2 linked regions of the Homo sapiens genome follow. The protein of the gene in region 1 interacts with the protein of each later gene in a biochemical or structural test. Each region holds a gene or a part of one and is shown on either strand. Other genes may lie near its edges. The genes, in order: PARP3 and APLF.

What was found.
Region 2: the proteins of PARP3 (region 1) and APLF form a complex in vitro, tested with the Homo sapiens proteins (one study listed by BioGRID).

The regions. Positions count from the first base shown.
Region 1 is NC_000003.12:51,945,144-51,949,468, forward strand, and holds the end of PARP3 (protein mono-ADP-ribosyltransferase PARP3), read left to right. Parts: coding exon 1-81; intron 82-351; coding exon 352-501; intron 502-709; coding exon 710-796; intron 797-1,022; coding exon 1,023-1,200; intron 1,201-2,596; coding exon 2,597-2,752; intron 2,753-3,167; coding exon 3,168-3,337; 3' UTR 3,338-3,724; downstream 3,725-4,325. UniProt on the Homo sapiens protein: Mono-ADP-ribosyltransferase that mediates mono-ADP-ribosylation of target proteins and plays a key role in the response to DNA damage. Mediates mono-ADP-ribosylation of glutamate, aspartate or lysine residues on target proteins.
Region 2 is NC_000002.12:68,575,270-68,578,128, forward strand, and holds part of APLF (aprataxin and PNK-like factor), read left to right. Parts: intron 1-2,550; coding exon 2,551-2,753; 3' UTR 2,754-2,859. UniProt on the Homo sapiens protein: Histone chaperone involved in single-strand and double-strand DNA break repair.

The sequences.
Region 1 (4,325 bases):
ATCCCGCACAACTTCGGCCACAGCCAGCCCCCGCCCATCAATTCCCCTGAGCTTCTGCAGGCCAAGAAGGACATGCTGCTGGTGAGGGCTGGCAGGGGTGCGGGCAGGCAGTGGGGCACTGAACAGACAGCCTAGGCGAGCGAGATGAAGGGCAGGTGGCCAAGAAGGCCCAGAAGGATGGACTGCCTGGGCAGGCTGACAGACGGGTGGGGAAGGCTGGGCAGACAGATAGGGTGGGGAGGGACAGGTGGGACACACAGGTGGGGTGGCTACAATACCAGTCATGTGAGAGAGGAGAGGGGAGGCCAGAGGTCAAGTGGGAAGACAAACTGCCAGGGCCCATCATCCTAGGTGCTGGCGGACATCGAGCTGGCCCAGGCCCTGCAGGCAGTCTCTGAGCAGGAGAAGACGGTGGAGGAGGTGCCACACCCCCTGGACCGAGACTACCAGCTTCTCAAGTGCCAGCTGCAGCTGCTAGACTCTGGAGCACCTGAGTACAAGGTGAGTTGGGCCCCACAGAGGGGCCAGGCTATCAGTGGGCACTGTCCCTCTGCCCACCTGCCCTCGAGGTGCCCAGAGGAATACTCGCCCTCAGCCTTCTCTTCCTGTGTCTCCAGGGCCTGAGGAGGGCTTGGGACTGGGGGAAGAAAAATGGGGGATTAGCTCCTGAGCCTCCCACCCTGGCAACCAGCTTCTGCTCTCCCCACAGGTGATACAGACCTACTTAGAACAGACTGGCAGCAACCACAGGTGCCCTACACTTCAACACATCTGGAAAGTAAACCAAGAAGGGGAGGTGAGGGAGGTTCCCCCACCTCTCCCCCATCACCACTGTGCCTTAGGAAGATGTCCTTGGCTAATCGGTCCCTTAGCAAATCGTTTAGCAGCTCTGGTCAGTTTCTGCCGGCCATGAGTGCGCGTGAGTAAGCAGAGGGACACTAGGCCTTGGTCACAAGCAGCAGGGCAAGGCGACTGAGTGCTCGGGTGGCATCACTCCCATTTCTCACTTCCTCTCCACTCAGGAAGACAGATTCCAGGCCCACTCCAAACTGGGTAATCGGAAGCTGCTGTGGCATGGCACCAACATGGCCGTGGTGGCCGCCATCCTCACTAGTGGGCTCCGCATCATGCCACATTCTGGTGGGCGTGTTGGCAAGGGCATCTACTTTGCCTCAGAGAACAGCAAGTCAGCTGGATATGGTGAGGTGCCCCTCTGGGCCAAGCCCTGGGAGGGTTGGCACTAAGATGGATTGGGCCCAGTCCTTGGCCACTGGAAATTCATGGTGAATCCAAGAGAGGAATCCTTTAATGGTTAATGACTACAGTGCTCAGTGGGCTGTCCTGGGCTTTGGTGGCGGGGGGTCTTAGAGAAAGTGTCTGATGGTCAGGGATGGCTTCCTGGGGGAGGCAATACAGATAGGATGGGTGCACCAACCAGACCTGGGAGGGGGTAAAAGGGGAGCCTTTGAGCCAGGTGTGGTGGCATACACCTGTAGTTCCATCTACTCTGGAGGCTGAGGCAGGAGGAACGCTTGAGCCCACAAGTTTAAGGCTGCCATGAGCTATGATCACACTCCAGCCTGTGTGACAGAGCCAGACTCCATCTGAAAAAATAAAAATAAAAAAGAGGAGACGTCAAGGCAAGGGGATAGGCAGAGAGGCTGGGAGGATGTGAGGATGTGGCAGGTCAGGGCTTCCAAACACTTCCTGATACTGGAGCTCAGAGCAATGCCTAGCCGGGGGCAGGGTGGGCTAGGGGCCCAGAACGATCGAGGAGGCTTTATCCAGAGAGTGATGGTTAGCCCAGCTGGACTTGTCTGTAGCAGGATCCCAGTGGCTACAGCTGTGGAGAGGGGGGCAGCAGCCAGAGGCTGCAGAGAGGCCATCCTCTTATCCAGGCTGGATGTGATGGGTGCCTGGCCCAAGGGCTGGGAAGTGCAGGGGAGGGAGCCCATGAGAGGGGCATGTAGGAGATGGGATGGGGAGCGTGTGGGAAAGGGTCAAGGCTGTCTCCAGTGACTTCTGAGTTTCTGGCCAGGAGTGTCCTCACCAAAATGACCCCCCCAGACCAGCTCCTCCACCCAGGCTGTCCCCATCATTGGAGGCCACCACCCAGCTGGCCAAGAGAGCAAGGACCAAGGATTCATCCCAGAACAGATGGGGCTGAAGTTCTAGGATGCCTGAGGTCACCAAGAGCAAGGGGTCCACCAGGAGGGCAGAGGGGCTTAGGAAAGAGTGGCGGGGTGGAGGGCTTAGGAGAGCCAGCGCGAGGAAGTCCCAGGTAGGGGCTGATGATGTCAGGAGCAAAGTCAGCAGAGCAGGCCAGGGAGAAAAGCCCCTGCCACGGGTTTGGTCACTGGGAGGCCATTGCTGACCTTGGTGAGGACAGCAGAGGGTACAGATGCCTGGCCATAGGGAGCACAGTGAGGTGGGAGGGAGCAGGCCGGGACAAGGAGGGAGTGACGGTTGGGGGAGAGTGAGCCTTTTCTTGCTGGAGCAGCAAAGCCAGAAGGAATAACATCGCAGCAGAGAGGGGCCCCACAGGTCAGCAGGAGGCAGGCTGAGCTGCCCACCGGTGCCTCCCTGTGTCTTGCAGTTATTGGCATGAAGTGTGGGGCCCACCATGTCGGCTACATGTTCCTGGGTGAGGTGGCCCTGGGCAGAGAGCACCATATCAACACGGACAACCCCAGCTTGAAGAGCCCACCTCCTGGCTTCGACAGTGTCATTGCCCGAGGCCACACCGAGCCTGGTGAGTCCTCAGAAGCTGTACAGCCCAAGGAGAGAGGTGGGGCCGAGATAGGGGCTGGGACATTTTCAGGGAGGGGGCTGTGAAGAGGGACAAAAAGAAGCTTCCCTGTCGTCACTCAGTTTGTCATTTGACAAACATCCACTGGTTCAACACATCATTCCTGGGCATCCCGGAGGGCTTCAAAAAGAGGAGTTGTTGACTGAGCATTGAAGGATTAGTACAAGTTTCCCAGAGAGAAGTCGGGGAGGACACCCCAGGCAGAAGCCCCAGCCCCTGCAGTGGTTTGGAGGTGGGCAAGGTGGAAATGAGCAGGCGTGCCCTGTGACAGACATGGAGAGCATAGGGGGCAGGACTTACTCGTAAGGCCTGGGACCAGTGACCCCTGGGCCACCCTGGCCCTTGCTGTGCCCTGCAGATCCGACCCAGGACACTGAGTTGGAGCTGGATGGCCAGCAAGTGGTGGTGCCCCAGGGCCAGCCTGTGCCCTGCCCAGAGTTCAGCAGCTCCACATTCTCCCAGAGCGAGTACCTCATCTACCAGGAGAGCCAGTGTCGCCTGCGCTACCTGCTGGAGGTCCACCTCTGAGTGCCCGCCCTGTCCCCCGGGGTCCTGCAAGGCTGGACTGTGATCTTCAATCATCCTGCCCATCTCTGGTACCCCTATATCACTCCTTTTTTTCAAGAATACAATACGTTGTTGTTAACTATAGTCACCATGCTGTACAAGATCCCTGAACTTATGCCTCCTAACTGAAATTTTGTATTCTTTGACACATCTGCCCAGTCCCTCTCCTCCCAGCCCATGGTAACCAGCATTTGACTCTTTACTTGTATAAGGGCAGCTTTTATAGGTTCCACATGTAAGTGAGATCATGCAGTGTTTGTCTTTCTGTGCCTGGCTTATTTCACTCAGCATAATGTGCACCGGGTTCACCCATGTTTTCATAAATGACAAGATTTCCTCCTTTTTTAAGGCTGAATGGTACTCTGTTATGTATATGCACCACATTTCCTCTATCCGTTCATCTATCAGTGGACACCAAGCTGCTTCCATATCTTGGCTATTGTGAACAGTGCTGCAGTGAACTGGGAAAGCAGACGTCTCTTGAACATACTGATTTCATTTCCCTTTGATGTATACCCAGTAGTGGGGTTTCTGGATCCATATCACCCCTTCTTGCCAGGCTCCCCTGTGTCCCAGACATCGATCCCCCTTCCCTCCAATCCCTGTTAGCCTTGATGTGTCTGTGGCCCCAGAGTCTTGCCTCCTAAAGTGATGGGTGTGGTACGGGCGTATTACAGGGACACAGATGCAGCAGCTTACTCAAGGGGCACAGCTGAGAGTGGCTTGGATCCCACATCCACCCAGGCCGTCCATCCTGGCCTGGACTGCATGTTGGAGCCATGTGGTCACCAAGGTAGGCTAAACTGCAGGCATGTGCAAGCAGCTTTACTAAACATGGTATTCTCTTGCCCCAGCCTCTGCCTGTCTGTGCCACAACTGTGCTGGGCCTGGGCCTCCAGCCACACTCCAGGGAGCGAGCGCTCACATGGGTTGATGTGGATCATGCACA
Region 2 (2,859 bases), on another chromosome or scaffold:
TAAAATCCCTGGTGATGACCATGCTTGGACTGTTCTAGGAATAGCAAAGAGCAAATAGAATTGGAACAGTGTGAGTAAACAGAATGGCATAGGATGAGATCAGAAAACTACCAGTGGGCTAGTTGAGTAGAGTCTTCAAAGCTGAGACCTGTAAATAAAGACTTTAGATTTTATTTAGAGTGAGACAGAAAGCTATTGGAAGGTTTTCTGACTTTTTTTTGTGAAGAATAGACTAGAATGGAAGCAAGAGAGCCAGTTAGGAGGATATTGTATTCAGGAAGAAAATGATAGTATTGGGGCCAGGGCATTAGAGTGGATGTGATCAGAAGTGGTGGATTTACTTTGCAGGTAAAGCTAACAGGATCTCTTGAGGTATTAGATGTTGGGTTCTCGGTGAGGGATATTAAAGGATGACTACAAGATTTCTTGCTAAAACAACTAGATGGTTGGATGATTAGAGAAGTCATATATTCAAGACTGATAAATAGAATGACCAGATCTGGGTAAAGCAACTAAAGAGTTATGTTCTGGAAATGTTATATTCCAGGTGCCTGTAAGTCATCCAAGTACAGATAATGCTTAAGTATCCAGATAAATGAGTCTGGAATTCAGGGCAGTAGGTCAGGGCTTAAGATGTGAATTTGGGAATTTAGGACATAAGACTGGATGGAATCATCTAAGGAGTGAGTTAGAGAAGAGGTTCCAGCTCTAAAATTTAGAGATTAGGATGATGAGGAAAATCCAGCAAAGAAAACTGAGAAGGAGCAGCCAATGAAGTGAGCAGAGAACCTGGAGTTGTTTCACCTTTATATCTGTTTTTCTTGTAAAGCTGGTAAGTGATTTCTGAATCTGAAAGGAAACTGTTTATTGAGATATCATTAGGACATGTTATGTGATAATGTGCATTCACATCTTAGAAAAAAAAGTTATGTGTATAAGGTATTTCCAAGAGGAAAATAGACAAAAATAGAGATATTGATGTTCTTTCCTTCTCATTCCCTTTCCCGACTGCAAACTGCCTTCCAATTTTTAAAAAATGCATTTTATTATTTTAAAAATATGGGTAACTGAGATTAGACATAAAACATGCCCTCAAGATGTTTACAGGAGCTGTATATACAGATATATGTAATGCAAGATTTTCCTTAAGGAACTGGTGAGCTTCCTACTATAATGATAATTGGGCAAGTTATTATATTGCCTTTTTAGCCTTGGCTACCAAGAATCTTGGGGATAAATTTGATGCTCTATTTTTAATAATTGTGTTAAAAATTGAGGTTATCATATGTGTATTCTGCTTTTTATGTTTTTGGTTTCTACCTTTATTAGCATTTTATTATTATAAGCTGTCTCAAATCCTTTCTGGAATGCGTACTGATATTAAGAAAAATATAAATATATTGGGCTATAAGGGTTAAAAGGACAGATACATTACTTCCTTTGTCATTTTTCTCATTTTTCCCAATTCATTGACTTTATTTTTAAAATTATAACTATATGTTGCATGTGAACATTTTAGAAAGATGTTAACCAAAGTGTATACTAAAGTACAGACATTAATGTTTTTAACCTATACATTTGCTGTTCATTAGGGACTGTCCTCTGCCATTCAGATTTCTAGATGAAATCTTCCTAATTGTTTCTTAAATGTTCCACACTGTCCTAGAGTCTTTCACTGCTTTATTTTAAAGCAACTCTGTAGCTCGCTGTGGAAAGAGTAAGATCGGGGAAGAAATGAATTTGGAGACAGAAGAATTCTAGTATTATAATATTACTTAGAAATCTGTAAATTCTAATGTCTATTATTATGGCATTCCTAGTCTTACTGAAACATGAACTGTAAGAATATCTTAGACCTATAAAACTAAACTTTCCAAAGTATCTAAGCTCACGCCCTGATGTGTCAGCAAGCTTTTGCTAGGTTTGCTGTGATAACAAACATTTCTAAATTTCAGTGCCTTATAACAATAAATACACTTATTTAAGTGTATTTCTCCTTATTGCAGCTGTGAATTGGCTGTGGCCCTGTGCCATGTGTATTCTCATCTTGGAATCCAGGCTGAGGGATCAGCCTCTATCTGGGACATGCTGTTCTTGTGGCAGAGGGGAAATGGCAATAGCAGAACCAGAGAAAGAGTCTTAAAGCATCCTTTTGGAAGTGACACACACTATTTCCACTCACATTTCTTTGAGCAATCACTGAGAAGTGAGGAAGTATAATCATATCACAGGAAGGGGCAGTGAATAATTGGGACAAAAATACATTCTACCACATGGGAAGATGGGATGTTGTGAATATGATTATGAGATTAAGGAACCATTATTATTAATCTCATGGGTCATTTTAGTTTCAGGAGCCTCATGGTAGGAAAAGTTAGAATAATAAATAACAAAGCATCATTTTAGTGCCGTTTCCAGAAATTTGTAGTGGTAAGCTATGCATTAATAAAATTAATCCTCTGGATGCAGAAAGACATTTTATAGGTAGATGTCTGTCATCCCAGGTTGAGTGGTGATTGATGTGTTGTGTACCAATCTTCTGTTTTGCAGTGAGAAATGTTTTAGATGAAGATAATGATAATGTTGGGCAACCCAATGAGTATGACCTGAACGACAGCTTTCTAGATGATGAGGAAGAAGACTATGAGCCAACAGATGAAGATTCTGACTGGGAACCAGGAAAGGAAGATGAAGAGAAGGAAGATGTGGAAGAGCTTTTGAAAGAAGCAAAAAGGTTTATGAAAAGAAAATAGTAACTAACTTCTGTAGTCATATCTGCCTTACATTTACTTTTTCTTTGTGGGAAAACATTTATGAACTAAGGAGGTACTTAAGTGACAGTTATTTTCCTTCTTTTGA